Linked DNA regions of Homo sapiens: region 1 is linked to region 2. Evidence: fine-mapped expression QTL. A gene starts in region 2. The other region holds a variant in brackets. All regions are shown on one strand. Distances are between the middles of the regions.

What was found.
Region 1: its variant is fine-mapped to the expression of GPRASP1 in whole blood (TOPMed, PIP 0.96).

The regions. Positions count from the first base shown.
Region 1 is chrX:102,872,764-102,877,995 of GRCh38, reverse strand. All of the region lies in intron 13 of ARMCX5-GPRASP2 (ARMCX5-GPRASP2 readthrough), which reads right to left. All of the region lies in intron 4 of LINC00630 (long intergenic non-protein coding RNA 630), which reads right to left. Among named protein-coding and RNA genes, the nearest start is that of RAB40AL, 62 kb to the left of the region's middle. The variant C/T (reference allele first, on the strand shown) is at 2,065.
Region 2 is chrX:102,649,495-102,654,726 of GRCh38, reverse strand. It overlaps GPRASP1 (G protein-coupled receptor associated sorting protein 1), which reads right to left and starts at 3,244. Exons shown (of 6, transcript NM_001184727.2): 1 at 3,132-3,244; 2 at 2,994-3,040; 3 at 2,462-2,552; 4 at 1,829-1,896; 5 at 1,429-1,506; 6 at 1-1,147. The coding sequence starts at 813. All of the region lies in intron 4 of ARMCX5-GPRASP2 (ARMCX5-GPRASP2 readthrough), which reads right to left.

The sequences.
Region 1 (5,232 bases), 220 kb before region 2:
GAAATATAACCTCATGTGGAACAAGAAAGAGCAGTGAAGAGAATAGAAAACAGCAGGCCCTCCAGGGATCACCTCTACCTCTCTCTGTCTTTGCTCCCTTCCCCACCTCATTTGTCTCCTGCTCTTTGTGATAGTATGGGATGTACACAGGTATCCCAGGTACCCTGAGAGAGGATAGAACGATGGGAAGATCTAGACCATGAGAAAGGTGGATCAGGCAGCACAAGTCCTGGAGCCTGTGCCCTGGGTGTTGGTTCACCCACCAGGCGCTCCATCTCTACCTGCTTCTGTGTGCCTCACCATTACTCTACCACATAGCAATGAAGCTCCCACATAACAGAAATATGCACTCTCCAAGAGAGGCTAGCAGGGGAAGTTACTTACCCCTGAGCCCAGAACATCTCACAGTTACTGGTTTGGGTCTGGCACCAATATGCAGAGAGATCTCTGGTCTCTCTTGCTCCAGTGTCCCGAACAGCAGACAGTATGAGGCTTTCATCAAGCCCCTTTGGACTGCAAAGGAAACACACATCTCTCATGCAGACTGGCGGTAATACAAGGGGACAGGAAAACCCGGGAAACAGGAAGAAGTGGGGTGTATGGTGATTTCATTCCCTTACCCCAAACTCCATTCATGGGGTCCATGATTCAGTTGAATAGAAATGGTGGAATCGGAAGCCAAGATGGCTGAATAGGAACAGCTCCGGTCTACAGCTCCCAGCCTGAGCGACGCAGAAGATGGGTGATTTCTGCATTTCCATCTGAGGTACTGGGTTCACCTCATCAGGGAGTGCCAGACAGTGGGTGCAGGACAGTGGGTGCAGTGCAGTGTGCGTGAGCTGAAGCAGGGCGAGGCATTGCCTCACTCAGGAAGCGCAAGGGGTCGGGGAGTTCCCTTTCCTAGTCAAAGAAAGGGGTGACAGATGGCACCTGGAAAATCGGGTCACTCCCACCCTAATACTGCACTTTTCCAACAGGCTTAAAAAACGGCACACCAGGAGATTATATCACGCACCTGGCTCGGAGGGTCCTACGCCCACGGAGTCTCGCTGATTGCTAGCACAGCAGTCTGAGATCAAACTGCAAGGCGGCAGCGAGGCTGGGGGAGGGGCGCCTGCCATTGCCCAGGCTTGATTAGGTAAACAAAGTAGCCAGGAAGCTCGAACTGGGTGGAGCCCACCACAGATCAAGGAGGCCTGCCTGCCTCTGTAGGCTCCACCTCCGGGGGCAGGGCACAGACAAACAAAAAGACAGCAGTAACCTCTGCAGACTTAAATGTCCCTGTCTGACAGCTTTGAAGAGAGTAGTGGTGGTTCTCCCAGCATGCAGCTGGAGATCTGAGAATGGGCAGATTGCCTCCTCAAGTGGGTCCTTGACCCCCGAGCAGCCTAACTGGGAGGCACCCCCAAGTAGGGGCAGACTGACACCTCACACGGCCGGGTACTCCTTTGAGACAAAACTTCCAGAGGAACGATCAGGCAGCAGCATTTCGGGTTCACCAAGATCCGCTGTTCTACAGCCACCACTGCTGATACCCAGGCAACCAGGGTCTGGAGTGGACCTCTAGCAAACTCCAACAGACCTGCAGCTGAGGGTCCTGTCTGTTAGAAGGAAAACTAACAAACAGAAAGGACATCCACACCAAAAACCCTTCTGTACGTCACCATCATCAAAGACCAAAAGTACATAAAACCACAAAGATGGGGAAAAAACAGAGTAGAAAAACTGGAAACTCTAAAAAGCACAGTGCCTCTCCTCCTCCAAAGGAACACAGCTCCTCACCAGCAACAGAACAAAGCTGGATGGAAAATGACTTTGAAGAGCTGAGAGAAGGCTTCAGACGATCACACTATTCTGAGTTACGGGAGGAAATTCAAAACGAATGGCAAAGAAGTTAAAAACTGAAAAAAAATTAGACGAATGGATAACTAGAATAACCAATGCAGAGAAGTCCTTAAAGGAGCTGATGGAGCTGAAAGCCAAGGCTCGAGAACTACGTGAAGAATGCAGAAGCCTCAGGAGCTGATGTGATCAACTGGAAGAAACGGTATCAGTGATGGAAGA[C/T]GAAATGAATGAAATGAAGCGAGAAGGGAAGTTTAGAGAAAAAAGAATAAAAAGAAATGAACAAAGCCACCAAGAAATATGGGACTATGTGAAAACACCAAATCTACGTCTGATTGGTGTACCTGAAACTGACGGGGAGAATGGAACCAAGTTGGAAAACACTCTGCAGGATATTATCCAGGAGAACTTCCCCAATCTAGCAAGGCAGGCCAACATTCAGATTCAGGAAATACAGAGAACACCACAAAGATACTCCTCGAGAAGAGCAACTCCAAGACACATAATCATCAGATTCACCAAAGTTGAAATGAAGGAAAAAATGTTAAGGGCAGCCAGAGAGAAAGGTCAAGTTACCCACAAAGGGAAGCCCATCAGACTAAAAGCGGATCTCTCGGCAGAAACTCTACAAGCCAGAAGACAGTGGGGACCAATATTCAACATTCTTAAAGAAAAGAATTTTCAACCCAGAATTTCATATTCAGCCAAACTAAGCTTCATAAGTTAAAGAGAAATAAAATACTTTACAGACAAGCAAATGCTGAGAGATTTTGTCAGCACCAGGCCTGCCCTACAAGAGCTCCTGAAGGAAGCACTAAACATGGAAAGGAACAACCAGTACCAGCAAATGTAAAAACATGCCAAAATGTAAAGACCATCGAGGCTAGGAAGAAACTGCATCAACTAACGAGCAAAATAACCAGCTAACATCATAATGACAGGACCAAATACACACATAACAATATTAACTTTAAATGTAAATGGGCTAAATGCTCCAATTAAAAGACACAGACGGGCAAATTGGATAAAGAGTCAAGACCCATCAGTGTGCTGTATTCAGGAAACCCATCTCAAGTGCAGAGGCACGCATAGGCTCAAAATAAAGGGATGGAGGAAGATCTACCAAGCAAATGGAAAACAAAAAAAGTCAGGGGTTGCAATCCTAGTCTCTGATAAAACAGACTGTAAACCAACAAAGATCAAAAGAGACAAAGAAGGTCATTACATAATGGTAAAGGGATCAATTCAACAAGAAGAATTAACTATCCTAAATATATATGCACCCAATACAGGAGGACCCAGATTCATAAAGCAAGTCCTTAGTGACCTACAAAGAGACTTAGACTCCCACACAATAATAATGGGAGACTTTAACAGCCTACTGTCAACATTAGACAGATCGAGACAGAAAGTCAACAAGGATACCCAGGAATTGAACTCAGCTCTGCACCAAGTGGACCTAATAGACATCTATAGAACTCTCCACCCCAAATCAACAGAATATACATTTTTTTCAGCACCACACCACACCTATTCCAAAATTGACCACATAGTTGGAAGTAAAGCACTCCTCAGCAAATGTAAAAGATCAGAAATTATAACAAACTGTCTCTCAGACCACAGTGCAATCAAACTAGAATTCAGAAATAAGAAACTCACTCAAAACCACTCAACTACATGGAAACTGAACAACCTGCTCCTGAATGACTACTTGGGTACATAACAAAATGAAGGCAGAAATAAAGATGTTCTTTGAAACCAACGAGAACAAAGACACAACATACCAGAATCTCTGGGACACATTCAAAGCAGTGTGTAGAGGGAAATTTAAAGCACTAAATGCCCACAAGAGAAAGCAGGAAAGATCCAAAATTGACAACCTAATGTCACAATTAAAAGAACTAGAAAAGCAAGAGCAAACACATTCAAAAGCTAGCAGAAGGCAAGAAATAACTAAAATCAGAGCAGAACTGAAGGAAATAGAGACACAAAAAACCCTTCAAAAAATTAATGAATGCAGGAGCTGGTTTTTTGAAAAGATCAACAAAATCGATAGACCACAAGCAAGACTAATAAAGAAGAAAAGAGAGAAGAATCAAATAGACACAATAAAAAATGATAAAGGGGATATCACCACCGATCCCACAGAAATACAAATTACCATCAGAGAATACTACAAACACCTCTATGCAAATAAACTAGAAAATCTAGAAGAGATGGATAAATTCCTCGACACATACACCCTCCCAAGACTAAACCAGGAAGAAGTTGAATCTGTGAATAGACCAATAACAGGCTCTGAAATTGAGGCAATAACCAATAGCTTACCAACCAAAAAAAGTCCAGGACCAGATGGATTCACAGCCGAATTCTACCAGAGGTACAAGGAGGAGCTGGTACCATTCCTTCTGAAACTATTCCAACCAATAGAAAAAGAGGGAATCCTCCCTAACTCATTTTATGAGGCCAGCATCATCCTGATACCAAAACCTGGCAGAGACACAACCAAAAAAGGGAATTTTAGACCAATATCCTTGATGAACATTGATGCAAAAATCCTCAATAAAATACTGGCAAACCAAATCCAGCAGCACATCAAAAAGCTTATCCACCATGATCAAGTGGGCTTCATCCCTGGGATGCAAGGCTGGTTCAATATACGCAAATCAATAAACGTAATCCAGCATATAAACAGAACCAAAGACAAAAGCCACATGATTATCTCAATAGATGCAGAAAAGGCCTTTGACAAAATTCAACAACCCTTCATGCTAAAAACTCTCAATAAATTAGGTATTGATGGGACATATCTCAAAATAATAAGAGCTATCTATGACAGACCCACAGCCAATATCATACTGAATGGGCAAAAACTGGAAGCATTCCCTTTGAAAACTGGCACAAGACAGGGATGCCCTCTCTCACCACTCCTATTCAACATAGTGTTGGAAGTTCTGGCCAGGGCAATAGGCAGGAGAAGGAAATAAAGGGTATTCAATTAGGAAAAGAGGAAGTCAAATTGTCCCTGTTTGCAGATGACATGATTGTATATCTAGAAAACCCCACTGTCTCAGCCCAAAATCTCCTTAAGCTGATAAGCAACTTCAGCAAAGTCTCAGGATACAAAATCAATGTACAAAAATCACAAGCATTCTTATACACCAACAACAGACAAACGGAGAGCCAAATCATGAGTGAACTCCCATTCACAATTGCTTCAAAGAGAATAAAATACCTAGGAATCCAACTTACAAGGGATGTGAAGGACCTCTTCAAGGAGAACTACAAACCACTGCTCAATGAAATAAAAGAGGATACAAACAAGTGGAAGAACATTCCATGCTCATGGATAGGAAGAATCAATATCGTGAAAATGGCCATACTGCCCAA
Region 2 (5,232 bases):
GGTATTGGTTTTATCTCTGGCCCAGAACCAGGGTGTCTTAACAGACTCATCCTCAGAACCAGAACTAGATGCAATATAGAGCTCCTGGTTAGTTTGGGACCTAGACATGGTATTAGCCTCTTGATTGGCCATGTGCATGGATCTGTTACTGTCTTTTACCCTATTCCCAGGATGAAATTTTGCAGTGACCTCATCTCCACTCCAGAACAAGGAACTCACAGATTTGTCTACCCATTTGAAATCAGAATTAGGAGAGGCTTCTTGTTTGGATGTAGGCCTAGGACAGCACCAGGACCCCATATTGGTCTCCTCCTTTGACCTAAAAGAAGGCTGGAATCCTGCTTGGTAATGGGCCTTCCTTCTAGGAAAGCTCTCAGTGTCTGTATTAACCAGTTCTCTATCCTCAGACAGGTACTTTGTTTTAGCAACCAAGACAGAATCAGTACTGACAAGTGGAGAGGCTATGATATTGGTCTGGGAGTTTCTCTCTGTCTTAGACAATCTTTCAGCACCAAACCTGGGCTGAGCCCACATCTGGGCTTCTTCCTTAAATCGTGAAACAGGTATTGCCTTGGCCTTACTCTTAGGGCGTGCCCCACCCACTGCACTTGTCTCAACTTTGGTGCTTGCTCCAGGCATAACCTTGGACTTATTCTTGGGCCTTGCCCCAGGCATTATCTGGGCCTGGGTCCTAACCTTGGGTCTGACCACCAGAGGGACATCATTCTCTATCTCAGCCCCACCTACAACCTCTTCCCCAGGCTTCTTTTCAGGCTTGACCTGGGCACCAGACTCAATCTCTGCCCCAGTCATGGTACAAGTTACAAAGAAAGTCCAGTACTATACTCCTCCCCCAGTCTAAACCTCAACCACAGATCTGTCACAGGTTTGTTTCTTCACACTCTGATCTTTAGGTGATTGAGGATATAAGCTTGGAAACAAGAGTTAGAGTCAATATCCAGTCCAGTAGTCACTCAGCCTCCTTCCCAAACACAGTCTCAGTCAGTAATTCAATAATACAGATAGAGTGTAGAACAGGCACAACCAAGCTTGAGGAAGACAGAGATTTCCTGGATGGGTGCAGACCCGTTGAGGGTGGTTGTCAGCAGCAACCCCACCACCAGCAGAGCAGCCACTGGAGGTGGATCTAGGGAGAGAGAATGAAATGGGGCTTTGAGTCTCTTCCAATTATGTCATCCCATGCAGAGACATATGCAGTGAGACTGATGTTGAATGCTAGGTGGGACAGCTGGGCTTTGAGAAAGTCTCTCTGGACCGGCTGCCTCCTATTAAACAGGTCCAACAATGGTGGGAAAGTGTGTCGGCAATGGGAGGGGCCAAGAAGTCCCCAGATTGGACCCTAAGCACTCCCGGACCCATGCTGGTCTCCACTACCCCGCCCAAAAGTATACCCACTCTCATACCAACCTTCACTTATGTGGTGCAGTTTCCCCCTCCTTTTCTTGTTCAAGTAGTGTCAAGCCCCACAGCTGACAGAAGGGGGTCCTACAGACAAGTAAACATACAGGAGAGAATGGAGAATGGTAGATAGGCAAGCACTCTGGCTCCTGTGACAAATATCTGTCTTCCCATTCAAGGGTTCAATGTATCTATGGTTTCCTGTGTCCTGGTCCCTGCTCTCAGGTCTTTCTGAGTCACAACACAACCTACACCTATCTCATGTCCCCTGCAAGAAATAAAAAGGATGCTGGCACTGTGCAAATCCAGCAGAGTAGAAGTGGGTCTGCACCCACTGGTCTCAAAGCCACCTGCCATGCTCTCTTTCTCCAACTGTCCCCTGAATTGCCCCCTCCCCCTTCTCACCAACCTCCAGAGGTGTGAGCCAGTCTCCTCCTCCTTGCCTTTCTTGCAGAACTGGCCAGCCTTAAAGCAGGCCTATGGACAAACAGATGAAAAAGTAAGACAGGAAATGAGGGGTGGCAGTAAAGCCCTTGGTAGAGAGACCAACGCTAAGGATAAGAATCCCCATATTATTGATATCTGTCTTTCAACATTCGGGGTTTTGCTGGTGGAATATTCTCGTTTTGTTTAGGCCCTGCTTCAAGGTTCTAGAGATAACAACTCCTTCTCTTGACGTCATACTCTTCTCATTACTCCCTTCTCCAATTCTGAGGATTCACCACTAGGTGCGCCACATCCCCTTGCTCTGCGCAGCAGAAAATGGGGGAAGGGCGCCACATATTCTAGAAAACAGGTCGTGAATTGGTACTTGTCAGTATGTCTCCCTCATCACCCCTACCTCCAAAGCTCACCCTTTCAAGCCCCCAGTTTAGGACGGTGGGGGAGGCAGATGGGGATGGAAGGTGGGGGAAGCGCCTGGAACACCATTAGAGAGGGGAAGATTAAGAGGTGCTCCTGGATGCCTGACCTGCTCTGGTCGCAGTCCCCCACCCCGATTCGGTTCTCCAGTGTTTGGCACCCACCCCACATCCCCACACACCTCCAGAAATCCAGGGAATATTCGTGCTCCTCCTTTATTTCAAGCCTCTCCTCTACAGATGCTCACTGTGTCCTGTCAGAATACGCCAGACCTACCGCGCAGACAGACTTTGACATCAACCTGGAGTCTGTGGGAAGGGACAGCACCCAGGACACGGGGCCCCACAGGCCCCTTTCCGGAATCAGGGCCCGGAGCAGCGAACGCGACCCACCTCCCACGGGCTAGGCACAGAGCTGGGACGCTGGCCCACGAGGGCCCCCCCAGGCGCCCCCCAACTGCCTCCCGGGCGCCCCCCAACACGGCTCCCGTTTGGCCATTTCTCCCGCAGGAGCCTCCCCCACAGCCGTCTCTCGGTACCGAAACCGTCGAGGGCTGCGCGCGGGCGCCTGCAAAGCTGGCTGGGAAGCGGTCAGCGCGGTTCTCCTCCAGACGATCTGACGGTGCCTCTGGAGCCAGCCCCTCAGCCCTTGGTCCGGCCTGGCCCGCACCAGTCACCGCCTCCCCATAGCCAGGGATCTCGGGCACTGCGCACCTCTCTCTAGCGCCCGGCTCCGAACGGATCGTCTCCTCGTTGCCAGGCTGTCAGGGTCCGGGGGGCAGGTTGCCAGCCGGTCCACCCTGGCGGACCACCCCCACACCACGGCCCCCCACCTCACGCACCCCTACTTGCCTTCAGAGGCCCAGAGCCCAGGTCATCGGCCTCCCCCTCCTCTCTTCAGCTCTCCTCTGGCTGCTCTTCAGTTGGATTCCCACCGCTTTCCCAGCGATCCGAATGGCAAAGACGAGTCCCGCCCCCCACGCCTCTGCACCAAACTGGGCAGGGGCTGCGCAGGATGCGGCAAGAACCGCTCTCCGCGAGGGTGTCGGGAAGGGGGGCGGAGGGATACGGCGCGAAAGTGCAGGACGCCCCCCCTCACAGAACCACCATAGTTCCGACCCAGAGGTGGGCGGGGCCAGGACGAGCCCCAGCCGGGGCCTGCGGGTTGGCACCAGGCTGCCTCAGGAGGACCCCGCGGACCCTAACGTGGCGACGACCACCACATTTCTGGCGCTGCTATAATATATGGCACCGGCGGGCGGCTGCGGGGCCGGGCGGAGGACAGGATCGCGAGGTCGCGAAGAGCCGCGCTGGAGGGAGCAGCGGATGGATACCAAACCGTCCCTTGGTGTGTCTGCACCCCCGCCCCAACCGCCCCCCTATAAGGACTGCTGGGTGTTTGCCCTCTCCCCCTCCCTAGTCTGCTCACCCTCCTTCCTGGATGTTAATGGGAGAGGGGGTGTCAGCACTGCAGTGTGGGAGGGGAGAGGCGATTTCAGTCCAGACAGGCCCGGGGTTCTAGGGTGGTCGTCCTGTGCGTTTCTTTCCCAGCTTCGTGGAGCCACGCAGGGGAGGAAGGTACACCTGCTCTTAAGTGAACTCCGGGGCAGGGGGCTCCCATCAAGGACTCACCACTGCCCCTCTTCTAAAAGAAGGTAGACCTAGACCTCTAACCCTAGGAAACCAACCACTGGTCTGCACCAGACTCATTTCTTTCTGCCACACCGCTGTTTCTCATTTCAAATGGTGGCTCACGTTGGCATTGCACCGTCCCCACAGTTGCCCCCAAAAGAGGACCTTTCCCTGTCAGGACCCGCAGGAGGTCATAACAGTCCTCTCTCTTTGATGCCGCCAGGTAGGGATGGTCCTGGCTTCTCTTCGGTTCCCTGTCAAGTCTTCTCTTGCCATGATATTTGGCAGTGTGGAAATGTGGCTGGTATCAAACCAGCTTGGATCTCCGCCACCTGCCACAACTACCTATTGTTTCAGCAGTCATTCTCAGGAGAGGATCCCACCGTGCACCCCCCTCCCCGAGACAAAGCAACCTGGCTCATTTGAATCCTCTTCTTTCACCCCCACATCCGTCCTCTACTCTTGAGCCCCTCCTTTCCCTGCTTCCTGCATGGGACAGACAGAGCAATGTGGTTAAACACCAAGTTGATGTTGTTACTGTTGTCCATTTGAAAACTCATTTAGACACTACCCTCATTGTGTTTGGCAGGTAACGGTCCCCTAAAGATGTCCATGTCCTGTTCTCCAGAACATGTACCATTTTATATTACCTGACAAAGGATCATTAAGATTGCTATTCAGCTGAGTTTAATTTAAGATTATTCTGGGTTATCTTGGCCAATGTAATTGCAAGGGTACTTTAGATGTGGAAGGCAGGGACTCCATGTCAGATTGAAGCAGCATAGAAAGTCTACACTGGTCATCGTTGGCTTTGAAGATGGAAGGAAGCCAAGATCCAAGAAATACAGGCTGTCTCCAGAACCTGGAAAAGACAAAGAAACAGATTCTTCCCTAGAAATGCCAGAGGGATAGCTCCTCTGGCAACATCTTGATTTTAGTGTGGTGAAGCCCTTTGAAGATTTCCAACCTTCCAGGACTGTAAGATAATAATAAATTGGTATTATTTTAAGCCATTCCATGTATGGTAACTGGTTACAGGGTAGCAGCACCAGACCTATCTGGTTTAACTTTTATATAACAAAGTTGTGCATTGTCTTTCAGTTGCCGGGGACCCTCAGATCATGTTACCTGAGCATCCTCAGATGAACCAAGCATGCAATCAGAGGGAGAATGTAAGTGTTTTGAATTAGGACCAGGGCTGAATTAAGAAGTGGACACTGGATGGCAGGATCCAGTCAGATCATGCCTCTCAGCATCACCTCATTGTAAGATCCAAAGCCATCAGGATATACCCTTAATACCCAATGCTTATGAAAACCTG